2 separate regions of the Homo sapiens genome follow, and region 2 is linked to region 1. The links come from fine-mapping of genetic effects on gene expression. A gene starts in region 1. The other region holds a variant in brackets. All regions are shown on one strand. Distances are from middle to middle.

Region 1 (9,783 bases):
TGCACAGACACAAGCATAGTAATTATCATTTTAATGATAAAGCAGAGTGGCAACACCCAGTTTAGTAACTGTGAAGAAGATCCCATCAGATATCACAAAATGTAAGAACTGAATGAGTAACACTGTGTAATATTTCATTTGCTTTTCCCCTGTCCCTCTCCCACCCCAATCCCAAGACGGGACTGGCTCATTATCCGCCACTATCTTCTGAATTTGCGAACAGTGACTGAATCCAAAGACACCATATCTTCAAGTAGCCATTAAAAAGTACAAACCGTAGGTCCAAGAAAATTTTTCCTTGGGGCTACACTGTTTCGTAGTGAAGAGTGAAAAAATGACACGTTAAAACACATCTTTGACCCTAACGCTTTCTGTTGAATAAACGCTTTTTCGGTCTTCACAGTAAATATACTCTACAATTAGTATGTGTAGCAACAGCGGACGTTTACACAGTGACTCAAATGCTTTTACACTGCATTGCAGCCTCACAATGCTGAGTTTGGCAGGGCAGGTCATTAGTAACCTCTTTCCGCGGGAGGGTGAATTAAGTCTAAGGGAAGTTAAGGGGCTTGCTGGGGGCCTGGCTGGCACCAAGCCTGGAACTGGGGGTCTCGGGGACGCCTGGGCGCGCGCCAGCGGGTAGTTTCCCACACGCTTCGCAGCAGCTTCCCCTTCCCGCAAACTCCGCGGGCTGCAGAGACGCTTCCAGCCCTCTGCAGACGTGGAGAGCAAGGGCCGCGGCGACGTGGAGCCTGGCACAAGGCCCGCGGAGCACACACGCCCTTGGGTGGCAGGCGACCCCGCGCCCGGACCCCACGCCCACTCTAGCATCGGTCCCAGAGAAGGTCCCTCCGGGCTGAGGCCAAAGCCAGTGTGCTCCCTCCCCGAGGTGGCGCTACACGGTCCCATCCCCTCTGGACTGCCGAGGCCCTGATCCTCACCTGCCACCCGCCCACTGGAGCTGGGCTAAGGGGTCACCTGCGGCCGTGACCAAGGTCCGTGAGGAAGGTGACAGAAGCCGGGAATCGGAGAGGAACTGGCACCCCCGGGGAGCTCTGTACGCCTGCGCGTGCCGGGCCGCGGCGCGCCTAGTTCTGCTCAGGCCCGATGCAGGAACCCGAGGCCCTGCCCCCAGGCCGGAAATGGGGTTCGTTTCCGGTTCGTCTGCTGTGGGCGGGGCCTGGAGCCCTAGGTGTGAACGCGCACAGGCAACCAGGAGCCGGTAGTTGAGGGGAGCGGACCCTGTACTTGGAAATGGGAACGGAGACTCCACTCCACCTAGCCTGATTCTGTCACTCAGAGGCAATAGGCAAGCCTGTGGCAGATGGGGCGGGTGAAAGGGAGTCGCTTAGGCTATTTTTATTGACCAGCATATCCTAGAAATCAGTGTTTCTATGGATTTGTCTTTGTGTTTATCTGTATTTTGTAAGTTTCTTACCATGCACCTGCAGTACTTGTATAATAAAATTAATGATAAAGATATCAGTGATAGATGGGTGGGTTTAATCCCGAAGTATGAAGGCCCTCTTAGCTCCGCAAGTTAATATCGGCAAACAGAGTGGTTGAATAGGATGATTCTCATGTCTGGGCCATTGCTTACTTGATTTCTTTCTTTCTTGTTTTTGCTTACTTGATTTCTTTCTTTTCTTTTCTTTTTTTTTGACCGACTCTGGCTCTGTCGCCCAGGCTGGAGTGCAGTGGCGCGATCTCGGTTCACTGCAACCTCCGCCTCCCGGGTTCAAGCGATTCTCCTGCCTCAGCCTCCCGAGTAGCTGGGATTACAGGCGCGTGCCACCACGCTGGGCTAAGTTTCGTATTTTTAGTAGAGACGGGGTTTCACTGTGTTGGCCAGGCAGGTCTCGAACTGACCTTGTGATCCACCCTCCTCAGCCTCCCAAAATGCTGGGGTTACAAGCGTGAGCCACCGCGCCCGGCCTGCTCATTTGATTTCTCATGTAATCTCTAAAATTTCATACACTCAACAGATACTCATCCAGCCTTAACTCAATACCACGCGCCTTGCCCAACTGAGCAAAACGAGACCCAACCATTTCCGTCACGGAGATCAATAAAGGGTAGAGGGGAAAGCTAATCACAGAAATGGAGGAAAGGTGCGTGGTCCTGGAAGCCCCGGTGGAACCAGGCTAGCGGCGTGGTTCAGCTATGATGTATTTTGGAGTCCTTGCGATGCCATTTCTGCTGGCCCAAGGCCAGGGCAGGCACTTTGAGCAGGATGCGAAAGAGGGGCAGTCTCTCCACCACAAGTCTTTAGTCTTTGGAGACCTCTAGGAACCCCAGGGCCTTCCCTTCCGACTCCCATTCGGAGGCATATGCAGTCCAGGACCACCAGTGGTGCGGTGCCGGCTTTCATAACCCCATCCTTGGTAGTGCTTTCTTTGCCACACAGTGCTGGGCACCTGCAGAAATGCATTAGGCATGGCCCTGACTTAGGGCACCTTGGGCCGAACCTAAGGGAGTCAGCTCAGGTGCCCATCCTGGCTACCCAATGGACCAATGAGCGCTGCGACTGTGTTACTCAACTTTGCAGCGTCTCATCGGTAAAATGGAAGTGTAACAGCTTATTCATAGGGTTGGATGAAGCTCCTTATGGCAGTGCGTGTGAAGCGCTGGCCCAGCGCTCAGGAACGCCAAGTACATACAAATGACAATACATGGCGGCGCCCAACTACGGCGTGAGCGATTCTTAGATGCGATGGCTAGCTAAGGCTAATCGCCGCTTGCTCCCGACGGCCTGCGCTCGGAGCCGGCCTCCACCCACAGCCGGCCTCCGCGGCCCGCTCCGCCCACCAACTTATTTCCTCTGGGCCGGGTTCTCACCTCCAGGAGTCCCCGCGCTGAGAGCCCGGATGTGAGCCCAAGTGGCCATGCGCACAAGCCAGCGCCGCTGCCATTGGTCGCTGGTGAGGAACAGATTGATGACACATCCGAAAAATAGGAAGTGGCCACTACGGAAGCTGTTCTGGGCCAGAAAGACTTCCAGTTTGGAGTCGTTTGCTGCGGGGAGGGAATGAATGGGCGCTGGGAACACGCCCGCGAGGTGGGGACGCGCCGGCCGTAGCGAGGTCCTTAGCGTGTGAGTGGCCGGGGTCGGGTCGCTTCCCCGCAGCATGGAGGACGATGCACCAGTGATCTACGGGCTGGAGTTCCAGGTGGGTCACTGGGAGGGCGGCAGGTGCTGCTCGGCCTGGCTGTTGATAGCATGCGCGGTCCCATGGTGACTTCGGTTTGCAGATCTCCCACCAGCCCTGCAAGGACCCGTGTCTGTTCCCTAGTTCCCATTTTGCAGAGAAGTAAACTGAGGCTTTAGGAGGTTAAACGGTTGTACTGGATAACAGGGTTGGCCACAGCCGGCCTGCCTCCTTCCCCTTCACATCCTGTCCCGAACATGACTTCTGACCTGGAAGTTATCACTCACTTTGGTGGACTCATTTATTTACACGCCCACCTTTTCCTCTAGAATTTGAGTTCCTGAAGGTAGGAACTGTATGTTGTTTAAAATAAAAATGTTTGATTTTGAAACAATTTAAAGTATTTAGAAGAGTTGTAAAAATACATAGAAAGTTCTTCTTTACCCTCCACCCAGCTTCCCTTAATGTTAACACTTTACATAACCATCGTACATTTATCACAGCTTAGAAATTAACATTGGTACACTAATATTCAGTAAACCACAGACTGTCTTCGGATTCAACTGTTTTCACACTAGTTTTTTACCTTGTATTTTCCAGTGCCTTTTCATGACTGTCACATAGTAGGTGTTCAACAAATGACTATGAACCGAATGAGCCCCCAGAGCATAAGCAATGCACATGGTAGTTCAGGACAGCAAGAAAGCTGCCGTGGATAGAGTAAATGCGTCAGGGGGAATGAGGTAGGGGATGAGATGAGCGGGGGAGGAAGATGAGGATTGTGTAGGGCCTGTTAGAGCCCTGTCCTGGTTTTCATCTATTCAAGTAGCTTTTGAGAATGTGTTATGCCTAAAGCACTGAGGGACAGATAGAGAGATAGAAACACAGTTCACTGCCATATGAAATACTTGATACATAATTTTGTGCAGCAGTATGTGTTAAAGATATAAATGATGTCTGCTTTTTTTTTTTTTTTTTGAGATGGAGTCTTGCTCCGTTGCCCAGGCTAGAGTGCAGTGGCGTGACCTCGGCTCACTGCAACCTCCGCCTCCCGGGTTTAAGTGATTCTCCTGCCTCAACCTCCCAAGTAGCTGGGATTACAGGCACCCGCCACCACGCCCGACTAATTTTTGTATTTTTAGTAGATACGGGGTTTCACCATCTTGGCCTGGCTGGTTTTGAACTCCTGACCTTGTGATCTGCCTGCCTCAGCCTCCCAAAGTGTTGGGATTACAGGCGTGAGCCACCGCACCTGGCCAATGTCTGTTTTTAAGTAGGTTACAGTCAGAGAGGCAGCAGTGTTAGTAGAATAACATATGCCACCCAGACACCTAAGTTTTAAATCCTGCCTCTAGCACTTATTAACTATGTGACCTTGGGCCTCGGTTTCCTTGCCAATAAAATATGCATCTCCCTCCCCCCCACCTCATGGCTGTTATGAAATTAAATGAGTTAATACACTTAATTGAATCACGTAGAACAGTGCCTGGTGCATAGTGTGTTCAATAATTGTTGTTCTAATTGTTATAATGAGAGAAAATTCCTTTTTTTTCCTTTGTAGAAATGGGGTTTCGCCATGTTGCCCAGGCTGGTCTCACACTCCTGAGCTCAAGTGATCTGCCCTCCTTGGCCTCCCAAAGTGCTGGGATTATAGTCATGAGCCACCGCACCCTGCCTAAGACAAAATTCTTACAAATAAATTTTATACAGGGCAGCAGTTAAGTGTCCTGTATAATAAACTGTGCTATAGGATTTGACCAGTGGCTATATCACATTCACAAGACTGATAGCTTAACTACCAGTGATTTAGCTCTGGACTATGTGTCAGACACTCTGCTTAGCACTGTACAAATATTTCATTTAATTCTCACAGCAATCATTATTGGTAGGTGTTATTGTTCCTGTTTTACGGATGAAGAGACAGCCTCAGAGAGAATAGTTACCTGTCCAAGGCCACTTAACTAGTAAATGATAGACCTTGGATTCTGACCTACTTAGACTTTCAACCCAAACTGACCTCGAGTCCCCTTACCTGCTAAGTTCTACTGCTTTCTCTTTAACTAGATACACATAGGGATACACAGGGAGAGACCACATGGGTAGATAGAAGGTTCTATAATCTTGTACTACCTGAAGATGCATACTCTGCCAGTGCTACTTAATTTAACTTCTTGATCTCCTTAAGAAATCTCTCAAAAAACCCAGAGGATTTTATCTTCAGTATTGTATCTTTGAGGTTAACTGAAATGTTATTTTCTTTTTTTTCTCTCTTTTTTTTTTAAATTATTATTATATTTTAAGTTTTAAGGTACATGTGCACAATGTGCCAGTTAGTTACATATGTATACATGTGCCATGCTGGTGTGCTGCACCCATTAACTCGTCATTCAGCATTAGGTATATCTCCTAATGCTATCCCTCCCCCCTCCCCCCACCCCACAACAGTCCCCAGAGTGTGATGTTCCCCTTCCTGTGTCCATGTGTTCTCATTGTTCAATTCCCATCTGTGAGTGAGAACATGCAGTGTTTGGTTTTTTGTCCTTGCGACAGTTTACTGAGAATGATGATTTCCAATTTCATCCACGTCCCTACAAAGGACATGAACTCATCATTTTTTATGGCTGCATAGTATTCCATGGTGTATATGTGCCACATTTTCTTAATCCAGTCTATCATTGTTGGACATTTGGGTTGGTTCCAAGTCTTTGCTATTGTGAATAGTGCCGCAATAAACATACGTGTGCATGTGTCTTTATAGCAGCATGATTTATAGTCCTTTGGGTATATACCCAGTAATGGGATGGCTGGGTCAAATGGTATTTCTGGTTCTAGATCCCTGAGGAATCGCCACACTGACTTCCACAATGGTTGAACTAGTTTACAGTCCCACCAACAGTGTAAAAGTGTTCCTATTTCTCCACATCCTCTCCAGCACCTGTTGTTTCCTGACTTTTTAATGATTGCCATTCTAACTGGTGTGAGATGGTATCTCATTGTGGTTTTGATTTGCATTTCTCTGATGGCCAGTGATGATGAGCATTTTTTCATGTGTCTTTTGGCTGCATAAATGTCTTCTTTTGAGAAGTGTCTGCTCATATCCTTTGCCCACTTTTTGATGGGGTTTTTTGTTTTTTTCTTGTAAATTTGTTTGAGTTCATTGTAGATTCTGGATATTAGCCCTTTGTCAGATGAGCAGGTTGTGAAAATTTTCTCCCATTTTGTAGGTTGCCTGTTCACTCTGTTGGTAGTTTCTTTTGCTGTACAGAAGCTCTTTAGTTTAATGAGATCCCATTTGTCAATTTTGGCTTTTGTTGGCATTGCTTTTGGTGTTTTAGACATGAAGTCCTTGCCCATGCCTATGTCCTGAATGGTAATGCCTAGGTTTTCTTCTAGGGTTCTTATGGTTTTAGGTCTAACGTTTAAGTCTTTATTCCATCTTGAATTAATTTTTGTATAAGGTGTAAGGAAGGGATCCAGTTTCAGCTTTCTACATATGGCTAGCCAGTTTTCCCAGCACCATTTATTAAATAGGGAATCCTTTCCCCATTGCTTGTTTTTGTCAGGTTTGTCAAAGATCAGATAGTTGTAGATATGCGGCATTATTTCTGAGGGCTCTGTTCTGTTCCATTGATCTGTATCTCTGTTTTGGTACCAGTAACATGCTGTTTTGGTTACTGTAGCCTTGTAGTATAGTTTGAAGTCAGGTAGCGTGATGCCTCCAGCTTTGTTCTTTTGGCTTAGGATTGACTTGGCGATGAGGGCTCTTTTTTGGTTCCATATGAACTTTAAAGTAGTTTTTTCTAATTCTGTGAAGAAAGTCATTGGTAGCTTGATGGGGATGGCATTGAATCTATAAATTACCTTGGGCAGTATGGCCATTTTCACGATATTGATTCTTCCTACCCATGAGCATGGAATGTTCTTCCATTTGTTTGTATTCTCTTCTATTTCATTGAGCAGTGGTTTGTAGTTCTCCTTGAAGAGGTCCTTCATGTGCCTTGCAAGTTGGATTCCTAGGTATTTTATTCTCTTTGAAGCAATTGTGAATGGGAGTTCACTTATGATTTGGCTCTCTGTTTGTCTGTTATTGGTGTATAAGAATGCTTGTGATTTTTGTACATTGATTTTGTATCCTGAGACTTTGCTGAAGTTGCTTATCAGCTTAAGGAGATTTTGGGCTGAGACAATGGGGTTTTCTAGATATACAATCATGTCGTCTGCAAACAGGGACAATTTGACTTCCTCTTTTCCTAATCGAATAGCCTTTATTTCCTTCTGCCTAATTGCCCTGGCCAGAACTTCCAACACTATGTTGAATAGGAGTGGTGAGAGAGGGCATCCCTGTCTTGTGCCAGTTTTCAAAGGGAATGCTTCCAGTTTTTGCCCATTCAGTATGATATTGGCTGTGGGTTTGTCATAGATAGCTCTTATTATTTTGAGATACTTCCCATCAATACCTAATTTATTGAGAGTTTTTAGCATGAAGCGTTGTTGAATTTTGTCAAAGGCCTTTTCTGCATCTATTGAGATAATCATATGGTTTTTGTCTTTGGTTCTGTTTATATGCTGGATTACATTTATTGATTTGCGTAGATTGAACCAGCCTTGTATCCCAGGGATGAAGCCCGCTTGATCATGGTGGATAAGCTTTTTGATGTGCTGCTGGATTCAGTTTGCCAGTATTTTATTGAGGATTTTTGCATCAATGTTCATCAAGGATATTGGTCTAAAATTCTCTTTTTTGGTTGTGTCTCTGCCCGGCTTTGGTATCAGGATGATGCTGGCCTAATAAAATGAGTTAGGGAGGATTCCCTCTTTTTCTATTGATTGGAATAGTTTCAGAAGGAATGGTACCAGTTCCTCCTTATACCTCTGGTAGAATTCGGCTGTGAATCCATCTGGTCCTGGACTCTTTTTGGTTGGTAAGCTATTGATTATTGCCACAATTTCAGATCCTATTATTGGTCTATTCAGAGATTCAACTTCTTCCTGGTTTAGTCTTGGGAGAGTGTATGTGTTGAGGAATTTATCCATTTCTTCTAGATTTTCTAGTTTATTTGCGTAGAGGTGTTGGTAGTATTCTCTGATGGTAGTTTGTATTTCTGTGGGATTGGTGGTGATATCCCCTTCGTCATTTTTTATTGCGTCTATTTGATTCTTCTCTTTTTTTCTTTATTAGTCTTGCTAGCGGTCTATCAATTTTGTTGATCCTTTCAAAAAACCAGCTCCTGGATTCATTAATTTTTTGAAGGGTTTTTTGTGTCTCTATTTCCTTCAGTTCTGCTCTGATTTTAGTTATTTCTTGCCTTCTGCTAGCTTTTGAATGTGTTTGCTCTTGCTTTTCTAGTTCTTTTAATTGTGATGTTAGGTGTCAATTTTGGATCTTTCCTGCTTTCTCTTGTGGGCATTTAGTGCTATAAATTTCCCTCTACACACTGCTTTGAATGTGTCCCAGAGATTCTGGTATGTTGTGTCTTTGTTCTCATTGGTTTCAAAGAACATCTTTATTTCTGCCTTCATTTCATTATGTACCCAGTAGTCATTCAGGAGCAGGTTGTTCAGTTTCCATGTAGTTGAGCGGTTTTGAATGAGTTTCTTAATCCTGAGTTCTAGTTTGATTGCACTGTTGTCTGAGAGATAGTTTGTTATAATTTCTGTTCTTTTACATTTGCTGAGGAGAGCTTTACTTCCAACTATGTGGTCAATTTTGGAATAGGTGTGGCGTGGTGCTGAAAAAAATGTATATTCTGTTGATTTGGGGTGGGGAGTTCTGTAGATATCTATTAGGTCCGCTTGGTGCAGAGCTGAGTTCAATTCCTGGGTATCCTTTTTAACTTTCTGTGTCGTTGATCTGTCTAATGTTGACAGTGGGGTGTTAAAGTCTCCCATTATTATTGTGTGGGAGTCTAAGTCTCTTTGTAGGTCACTCAGGACTTACTTTATGAATCTGGGTGCTCCTGTATTGGGTGCATATATATTTAGGATAGTTAGCTCTTGTTGTTGAATTGATCCCTTTACCCTTAAGTAATGGGCTTCTTTGTCTCTTTTGATCTTTGTTGGTTTAAAGTGTGTTTTATCAGAGACTAGGATTGCAACCCCTGCCTTTTTTTGTTTTCCATTTGCTTGGTAGATCTTCCTCCATCCTTTTATTTTGAGCCTATGTGTGTCTCTGCACGTGAGATGGGCTTCCTGAATACAGCACACTGATGGGTCTTGACTCTTTATCCAATTTGCCAGTCTGTGTCTTTTAATTGGAGCATTTAGTGCATTTACATTTAAGGTTAATATTATGTGTGAATTTGATCCTGTCATGCTGTTAGCTGGTTATTTTGCTTGTTAGTTGATGCAGTTTCTTCCTAATGTCGATGGTCTTTACATTTTGGCATGAGTTTGCAGCGGCTGGTACGGTTATGCCTTTCCATGTTTAGTGCTTCCTTCAGGAGCTCTTTTAGGGCAGGCCTGGTGGTGGCAAAACCTCTCAGCATTTGCTTGTCTGTAAAGTATTTTATTTCTCCTTCACTTATGAAGCTTAATTTGGCTGGATATGAAATTCTGGGTTGAAAATTATTTTCTTTAAGAATGTTGAATATTGGCCCCTACTCTCTCCTGGCTTGTAGAGTTTCTGCCGAGAGAT
Region 2 (9,783 bases), 27 kb before region 1:
GTTTTTTGCTATTTTTATCTTATTATTTTCCACCTTATTCCCCTTCCTGGTGGCCCTCCTCCATTTTCTTTTTCTTTTTTTTCTTTTTTTGAAACGGAGTCTTGCTCTGTCGCCCAGGCTGGAGTGCAGTGGCGTGATCTTGGCTCACTGCAAGCTCTGCCTCCCAGACCATTCTCCTGCCTCAGCCTCCCGGGTAGCTGGGACTACAGGCACCCGCCACCACGCCCGGCTAATTTTTTGTATTTTTAGTAGAGATGGGGTTTCACCGTGTTAGCCAGGATGGTCTCGATCTCCTGACCTCGTGATCTGCCCGCCTCGGCCTCCCCCCTCCTCTATTTTCAATGATAGATGTCAGAAATATGAAGCAAAGAAACTATTTTTAAAATCAGAATCTAAAGTATACCACATAAAACTTTAAACTTTGTGAAAGAAATCTTATGAAAATCTCATAATTACTGTACATGACATGTAAAATTCTAATAATGAAGTTAGTCTGATATGAGATAAAGATTTTAGATAAAAACTACTTTTACGTTTTTTTGCTAGGAGTACGATACAGGGTCTATTTGAAAAACTGAACGTAGGCATTACACAATTTCCAAATGATGAGAAAAATAGTCTAATAAAAATCACTCAAGTAACTAATGGCATGTACATAACTTTTCTCCATCTAAGACTCAAAGGGAATTATTACCTCTACATATGATACCATTAAAGTGATTAACACGTCCTTCTCCCAGGCTGTGACATCCATTTCCCTGTAAATTACAATCTTAGGAAACTCTGACATAACTTAGGGAAATAATTCAAAAACCCTTTCCTGGCTGCCTTAAAGACAACACGAATTATTTTAGGACACACTAGAATTAAAATACCAGGGCAAGGTAAAGATCCTTTCATAAATACATTTTTCACCTTACGTAAGCTCCCTTGTTAGGCCTGTTAATAAAATTTCTGATGGTCTCAAGTATTTCCAACGTATGAAACACATCAAACCATTGTATATATTTATTAATAACAGGAACGATCAAAGAGGGTAAAAAATAGCCTGTAGAAAAAATTAATTATAATTAACATGCATGGCTTTGTGTGTGATTTTTAAACCCATTATTATAAAGCCCTGTCATGCTGCCAGTTCAGTTCCTGCCTCAAGAGGATACATCACAGCAGCTTCCCCATGGCCAAACCAAGGGGCCACGCCCACACCCTTGGGAACAGAGCATGGGCCAGGGAAATGGCCACCCTGGAGATCCGTAACTGCATTAGCAAATTATAAAGGATACAGATACTTACAAATTAGCTGTTTTTTCCCCTTTAAAAAAGAGTATCTCCATCTCTCTCCTCTCCAAAGCTTTCTAATCATAGAAATAATTACAGAATCACTTTGGTAAAAGAAACTCAAAGAAGCATTCGACTGACATTGACTCACATTTAAACTTGGTGTGATGTGTGAAGGTAAGCAAGGGATGCTTGTTTACCTTTTTGAGGACACGCTTCTGTAAATACGGTAAAGAACGTGGGGAAGAAAGGCAATTTGGGGAGCATAGTTTCCAGTGGTTCACAGGCTACCAGAGGATTCAGACAGCAAACACCTACACCTAAGATAATTTCCTGCTTCTATTTTAGGAGAGGGTCTCTGCCTGGGTTTTTGCGCTTACTCCGAGTTAATGAGTACAGACCTGTGTGTGTATGTTGCGTGACCATGTGAGTGACAGTTCCACAGCTTGGGGAGCGTGGTGCAGAGGAAGGAGGAGAGGGAAGCGTCTCTGGGGAAGGTTTGGCTTCTCTGAGTCTGGAAGGGTCCTTCAGTCTCTGCAAGTCAGGGAACAGCTGGGAACTTTGCTCTGGGGCAAGAGGCCTGAGGGATTCATGCTGGAGCTCTCGGGATTCCCGCCAGTTACAGAAGCAGGGTTGTGGGAACTGGTATTCAAGATGTAGTACAAGCAGCTTCCCTATGGGAAGTGGATTCAGGGCATGAGGAGAGAAAAGAGAAACTTCACTGCCATGGGTTAGGAGTGCAGCTGAATTTGTGTCTGTGTCTGAAGACACTGATGAAGAATCATAAGAGTTACAATAAATTTGTGAATCTGGAATATATACTTCTTTTAAAAATAGTGTATGAGCTTCAAGTCAGCAATAAGTAAATTAAAAATAATAGAATAGCACTTCTAAATCTGAGTAAATCCCATAAATGGTTAAGAAGGCAGAACTTCACGGAGCAAGAGCACTAGCTTAGCAACCTTTATTGTTATTGCTGGAAAGAGAAGAGGCTTAATATGTGTTTGCTCAATGAATACACTAAGAAACACAAGTGAGAACTTGTTTGTTTGAATCCCATCAGATATAAGGTCTTCTCATGGGAAATCCTACCCCTGGATACAATCCAGTCCTAGAAGCTGTATTGAAAAGCGTAATTCCCACGGTGTGTAGATCCGACGGTTCAGAAATACTAAGTCATTTGGTGGGAGGTAGTCAATGAGCAAAACCAACACCAGCAACTGTGCTTTTTGCTGGGCTGTGCGGACTGTGTAAGGGACATGGGGCAGTAGGGATGGTACTGGTAACAGGAGCAAGGACATTTGTTTGGGGCCAACCTCTACACCTTTGTAGATCTTAGTGTTCTAATCTACAAAGCGGGCATTTTGGACTATGTTAGTTTTTCAAATTTTTAAATAGTAAAATTCATCCTCCTTTCCCCCCACCCCCCCAAAAAAAGACATCTCAAGAGAGACTTCTACATAAAGTAGACCCTGCTGAAATGCTCTGCCTGACACTGGCCCTACCAAGTCACCTCCGCAGGCCATGCCCAGTCACCCCAAGGTCCCTCCCTGGAACCCGAGGGTTCTCAGAATCACAGTTTGAAAATGTGCTGGATTCGATTTTCATTCCTTTCAAATCCTTCCTTTCCTTTTCTGTCATTGCAGAGGAAGAAATGTTCCATCTTTCTCCAGACTAATCTTCTTGTGGTTTCATCTCCTCACTCTTTGCGCCCCCTCCCCCGTAACCGCCCCCCACTCTATCCTTTTGTATGAGCTCCTTCTCTATTTCTTTAAACCCAACATTCTGACGCTACTTCTTTATCAAAAGAGTAGCTTACCGACTGGGGGTTCTCTTATCTATTCATTCCCTCATCCCTTTATTTACTCAAGAAGACGCCGTGTACCCATTCTGTGCCTGACCGTGCTGGGTCCTCAGATGCACTGGTGAACAAGACACGCTTCCTGACTGTCACGGTGTTTATTACAGATTTTTAATTTTTGTAGGTTGGCTCTGTCTCCCCCAAGTTACAGCATTTGTTATTGACACTGATGACATGTCACCTCCCAGTTCATGCATATAATGAAGTCAGGATAAAATCCAAGTAACTAAGGCTGCTTTGCCAATGTTCGGTACTTTCTCAAAAACAGGCTTTTTGGGCAAAACTCCAAAAAAAGATTTTTTTGGGAAAAAGATCAGGGATCAAAGGAAGTTAAAAATCAAGATCGAGAAGAATATAAGAAACTGACTTTTGAGTAAAATGGGGAGGATTCTATATTTTTTCCTTTAGGCTCTCTTAGGAAGCAAGAGATCTGCTGACAATAGAACACTAGAAAGTAGAAAGTCAAAGAGAAGTTTAAAATCAGAAGAGAGGGACTAGAAAATCCAGGAACCCAGGGCACGATGTCCCTGCGCGACCTCACAGCAGAGTACAGCCCCCACCCATGCTTCGGAAAGGCCCTCACACAACCGCGATCTGGGTCATCACAGCCGGGAGCCAGGCCCCAGGCAAAGGGGTTCCAGGTGGCCCGGTCAGCGTAGCAGGCAGTCCCCAATCCATACTGAACCCAGGAAAGCTTCTAAAGTGTCACAGAAGTCACAAGACCACACATAATAAGGATTTGTCTGAATTCAAGAGAACTAGTCAATTAAGGAAAAAATTTTGTTACTTTGTTAAATGCTCCTGTTAAAGATCAAGAAATCACTCCTCTCCTGGCTCAGGATTTCAGCCTCACAAACATCAGTCATTTCTGGCAGAATGGGGACAGGCTATACCTCACTTTCAAATACA[G/C]AGGCAGAGGTGATGTAACAAAAAAGGAACTGGGATTATTTTCTTCTGAACTTCACTGTAGTCTTCTTGCAAGTAAGTGATTTACATATTACTGTTTTCACACAAAAGACAGTTGCCTCTGAGCTGGGACTGAGCCACGCGCTACTCCAAAATAAACTTTAAAACATTCTCATTTTCTGTTTTAGTTCACAGGCTAACCTTCACCTGTCATTTCAATGGGCTGCAAAGTTTAATCCTCCAGAAATTTCTAAACTTCTCAACTATTATATCTTTAGGAACTAAAGTTTGCTTAAAATAGGTGAAATCTGGTCGGGTGCGGTGGCTCACGCCTATAATCCCAGCACTCTGGGAGGGTGAGGCAGGCGGATCACCTGAGGTCAGGAGTTCAAGACCAGCCTGGCCATGGTGAAACCCTGTCTCTACTAAAAATACAAAAAATTAGCCGGGTGTGGTGGTGCACGCCTGTAATCCCAGCTACTCGGGAAGCTGAGGCAGGAGAATCACTTGAACCCGGGAGGTGGAGGTTGCAGTGAGCTGAGATCACGCCATTGCACTCCAGCCTGGGCAACAAGAGTGAAACTCCATCTCAAAAAAAAAAAAAAAAAAATTGGTGAAATCTGAAGCCCGGTGCAGAAGAATTAGTAACAATTGAGAAAAACAAGATGGGGAACTATTAGAAAAATAAGTAAATTAGGAAATTCCATTCTCTTTTTTGAAAGTTGAAAGGTGAATACATGTCCTCCAGATTGTTCACCCAAATGGAGAGTGTCTGGACCATGTGCCGCTGAAATACAGTCAGGATAAGGGCGCATTTCAACATGAGTTTCAGACAGCCGGTGGGACTTATTCCCAAAATCAAGGACCTCACTCTCCAAACCCCTTCAAGAAAGTGTGCCCACTAACTTGACTGCATGCAGGCATGGGAGCATGGCTTTGCTAAGTCCACTCTAGGCAACCGTGTGGATGAGCTAGCAGAGCAATTCCACAGCCCCCTAAGGAGACAACACTGGGGAGCTGAGATTCGGTGTGAGATGGGGCTCTCATTTCAGAGTACTTACCCCATGGCTACCATAGGATTCCTGAAGGAAACATACGCGACAAACTTCCAATATCTTCTCCTTAATCTAGAAAAGCTACCCAACGCAATTACAGCTGTCTTTAAGATTATAAATTCATTGGAAACAAATCAACCTGTACAGCAATGGTGATCCAGTACTAATGTTTTTTTATTTTTATTTTTTTGAGACGGAGTCTCGCTCTGTAGCCGAGGCTGGAGTGGCAGTGGTGTGATCTCGGCTCACTGCAACCTCCACCTCCCGGGTCCCAGTTCAAGCGATTCTCCTGCCTCAGCCTCCTGAGTATCTGGGATTACAGGAACGCACCACCATGCCCAGCTAATTTTTGTATTTTTAGTAGAGATGGGGTTCACCATGTTGGCCAGGCTGGTCTTGAACTCCTGACCTTGTGATCTGCCCGCCTTGGCCTCCCAAAGTGCTGGGATTACAGGTGTGAGCCACTGCGCCCAGCCATGAATTTTAAAAACCTACTTATAGAATTCATGACAAAGCTTAAAAATGTTCAGAAATTCACCCATTCAATAATAAACTTTCTACACAAAATGCAGAAAATGCAATATATTTAAAAAATGAACACAAATCATTTATCTCTATTATATATGATGAAGCAAACTCAATCAAAGTATGCACTGCTTTGAGTAATTTGATCATTTCCAATAATGGCTTTTTAACTAATTAGGCTTAAAAGTATCCATGTATTAATATGATGCTTTTTGGTGCACAGGACTGGCATCTACTCCAACAAAATTCTACTTATGTGCAAGAGCTTTGAATAATATTCAAAATAATTGACTTCTAGAGAAAATATTATGAAGGCAGGCAGGACTTATCACAAAACAACACTGAAATCAAACACATTGTCACTTACGATTAGCTGTTTCAATCCAACAAAAGATTGTTCCACTGAGTCGGCATTTAGGACTTGTCTCTTTGCTGCAGCTTTTTCACCCAGAAAGCGAAGCATCAAGTCTTTAACTGCATCTCCCTGGGAAGAATAGAAGAAAAATATGTCAAGACAATAAAATGTCAACTAAACTCAGCTAACCAGAACCCATAACTAAACACAATTTCTTTTTTCTCCACTGGCTTGTGGAGGTAAAAGTAACGGTTATAGTATCGTAAAACTTCAATTAACCAGAAGCTAAATTAGCACAATCGTTAATAAAATGCATAATTTTAGAATTGCTCTTTATTCTTTTTATTTTAAAAATTATATCTTTATTCACCACTGATCAGAAAGCATGTTCTTTATTCTGAAGAGGAAACGGTAAGTCCTACCGCCTACTACCAGGCTTGTAGTGAGAGGCAAAGCCAAGCCAGCAGAGAGGCCTCAGGTGAGGGGCCTAGGGAGGCCCAGGAGCATGAAGGTGACACTGCTGGGGACCAGGGGCTGCACCCACAGTGGCCAGCCTCGCGCTGGTGCAGGCAGGCCTGAATAGTCTTCCCAAATCTCATCAATGCCTCCATGCTTGCCTGGACCTCCAGGAAAGCCTGGAGGGCTAGGGCTAAAGAAGTTAAATTACCAATGGCCCTCTCTTCAGTGCTGAGGTCACCAGCCAAGCCAAAGGAAAACTGAGACCCCCTTTCACAGCAGGTCCTCGGTAGCCTCGCTGAGCCAGGCCTTGCTCCAGGAGCTGCTGGGCGCACTTCATGCTGCAAGCCAGGGAAGAATCCAGTTGCCTCTGCACGGGACCGTTTCTACTCCTGACCTGACTCCTCTGATTAGAACGATCTTTAGACGGTGCTGAAGAACACTGGACGTGGAATCTGAAGCATGCCACTTGCTTTAAAGGGAAGACACAGAAGGGCAAGGGGAGGGAGAACAGGTGCTTTTGTGTGGCCTGGGGACAGAAGAGATGTGCCAATGACCTGCCCTGAGCAGGGAGCAATCTCACAGCTAGTGTCAAGCCCAGATGCTGGGCGAGCCAGCCTTCATGACCCTCGGGAGTCGGCACAGTTCAGGGGCCCCAGGGAAGGGCCTGAAGTTACCAAGTCTGTTGTATGGGGACAAACTAGTCATCCCAACAGTGCAGAGAAAACTGTCACAGTCCACAGGCCTCAGTGCTGTTTCGGTGGCTGCACCGCAGGCCGAGGGAGAGTCCAGGGTAAGTAAAGGCTGCTCACAGGACACGATGCTCTCCACGGGCGGCAGGAGACGCCTCTCACACACAGCTGGGACCAGGACACAGCCCTGGACCATCTCTCTCCTTTCTGGGGGTGCTGCTGACTGAGGAAAGGCACCTGGGAAGGGGCAGCAGCACTGAGGTCCCTGAAACACCTGAGGCAGGGGCAGCTGGGGGGATAGAGCAGCCCAGGGGGAAAGGGAAGCAGCGCTGAGGTCCCTGAAACGCCAGAGACAGTGAGTATCCTGGGAGGAGGAAGCAGTGGCTCTGAGGTCCCTGAAACGCCAGAGACAGTGAGTATCCTGGGAGGAGGAAGCAGTGGCTCTGAGGTCCCTGAAACGCCAGAGACAGTGAGCATCCTGGGAGGAGGAAGCAGTGGCTCTGAGGTCCCTGAAATGCCAGAGACAGTGAGCATCCTGGGAGGAGGAAGCAGTGGCTCTGAGGTCCCTGAAATGCCTGGAGACAGCAAGCAGCCGGAGCTGGCTGGATCTTCCCTGACACGTGCTCTGGGCGTCTGGCCCGCAGCAGCTGCTGACAGGGACACAGCACAAAGTCCCTGCAGTCTCTCGGGTGAGCAGAAGAAAGACTCAAACTAGGACAACCCCAAGATGGGGGGTGGAGAAAGCCAAGATCTCTCCATCTCAGCACAAAGCTGCCTCCCAGCCACAGAGAAGCTGATGCTCATGCTGCAGGCGGGCCACTGGGAGCACGCAGTGACTGAGGGTGCAGAGAAGCCTGCGTGCCCCCTGCCTGGACTTCACCGCTGGCTCAGATCTCTTCCTATTGTTCTCCTACCCTTTTTTTTTTGGCGGCGGGGCGGTGGCGGGGGGAGCGGGGGAAAGAAAAGCATAGAAGTTGTTTCTCCTAAGAAGCAAGGTTATTTCAATCTTTTGCTATCTTTCAAAATAGTGACACTTAAAAGAAGAACAGAATCTAGACCATGAGAGCAAGAGAATCAGAAAAGCTGCTGACATTGCTTCTCTGCTCTGCTGCCTCCCTTCTACCAGGAGAGATCAACAGCCTGCGGCAGAAGGGGCTGGGTGGCTCCAGGTCATAGGTCTGTCTCTTCCCTGGGTGCTAAACCTGGTGCTCGCAGAGGCCAGCCTCACGTTTTCTCACATTGAGGAAAAGACCTAGGGGCAGCAGTTGTATAATTTCTGCTTTCAGAGCATAAGGTGAAGTACTTCAAATACCAGATCCACAAAATCAGCTAACTGATCTAGCAGCAATAATTAAAAGGCAAAATAAAAGAGTTCAGACACAGGGCCCCATAAAGCTCTGCAAAAATGCAACTCGTCTCAGACAAAGAGCATCTCAGCCAGGGGGGCAGCGAGCTGGGTAAAGAGCAAAATCAAATTGTAATGCCAGGGACGGAGGGCCAATTCAACTCCTCCATCCCCACAACATTATCAATGAGACCATGCTGTGAAAATCTCTTGTCCTTAAAATTCTCTGTTAGTTAATATTTTAGCTACCACAGCAAGTTCCTGAGATACTAGCATATGCATGACTATCAAATATCCCACCAACAGAGGGCCAAGGATGTGACAAGCGTCTTAGGACAAACCTCGCCCTTGCTGTGTGGCTAACTGAAGGTGGTGACAGCGCAGGGAGGTGGAGACGCTTGTACTGCATCTCCTCTAGCCGTTACTGTGCAGGGGAGGTGGGAGGGGGAGGGAACTTCCCCCAGGGCTTTCTAGAGAGCTGTGCTACTACACCTGGGATGGAATCCAGCTAGAACCAATGATTCCTTCAGACCAGCAAGCCATTCAGTGAGGGTCTACTTTATCCAGGGCAAGGTTCAGGGAACACGAAGGAAACACATGAATATATCACAATCTGGGACTCATCGTGATGTCGCCACCCCATTCTCCTGGTCAGGTGCATTTATGGAGGAGCAAGTGGCTGTTCTCACGGCTGACAGGCGGTTAGGGCCTGGCTGCCTTTCCTGCAATGGGGGAATAGTCTCAGTAGTCCCTTCTTGATTTTGATGGTGAAAGACAAAACAGAAGCCAGAGCAGTGGACTGAAAGCGTATGGGCCTTACTGTCTGGGAAGCCCAAAGACACAAATGCTCACGGGGTAGCGCTGCTGAAAGGCAGCAGCCCCTGCACCTGGCACAGAACACGCTGAGCTTTCTGCCACATCGCCAATGCAGAAAGGTGCCTGTTTATCCTGGCAGGGTCTATCCTCTGATCCAGTGTTTGCTTACTCCAGGGAAAAATGAGACCACCTGAACAAAAAAACCACAACAATTAAAACCCAAACCCAAACTCAAGGATGTGGAGCAACTGGAACCCTCACACACCACATCATTGGTGGGGAGTCAACATGGAATAGCCATTTTAGAAAACTGTCTGGCGGGGCCTCAAAATGTTGAACAGAGTTACCACAGAATCCAGCAAGTCCACACCTAGCTATACATCCCAGATCACTGAGAACACATAGACACAAACGCCTGTGTGTGAATGTTCACAGTAGCATTACTCACAACAGCCAAAAGGTAGAAACAGCCCAAATGTCCACCAACTGATGAA

What was found.
Region 2: its variant is fine-mapped to the expression of EIPR1 in lung (TOPMed, PIP above 0.99).

What each region holds. Positions count from the first base shown.
Region 1 is chr2:3,371,035-3,380,817 of GRCh38, reverse strand. EIPR1 (EARP complex and GARP complex interacting protein 1) reads left to right here and starts at 3,000. Exons shown (of 9, transcript NM_003310.5): 1 at 3,000-3,170. The coding sequence starts at 3,129. It overlaps TRAPPC12 (trafficking protein particle complex subunit 12), which reads right to left and starts at 1,124. Exons shown (of 12, transcript NM_016030.6): 1 at 942-1,124. RefSeq lists silencers at 1,104-1,153, 2,717-2,776 and enhancers at 1,642-2,158, 2,159-2,675, 2,947-2,996, 3,017-3,196, 3,217-3,496.
Region 2 is chr2:3,398,103-3,407,885 of GRCh38, reverse strand. It overlaps TRAPPC12 (trafficking protein particle complex subunit 12), which reads right to left. Exons shown (of 12, transcript NM_016030.6): 3 at 5,993-6,109. Among named protein-coding and RNA genes, the nearest start is that of TRAPPC12, 23 kb to the right of the region's middle. RefSeq lists enhancers at 6,065-6,988, 6,989-7,914, 7,915-8,840. The variant G/C (reference allele first, on the strand shown) is at 4,049.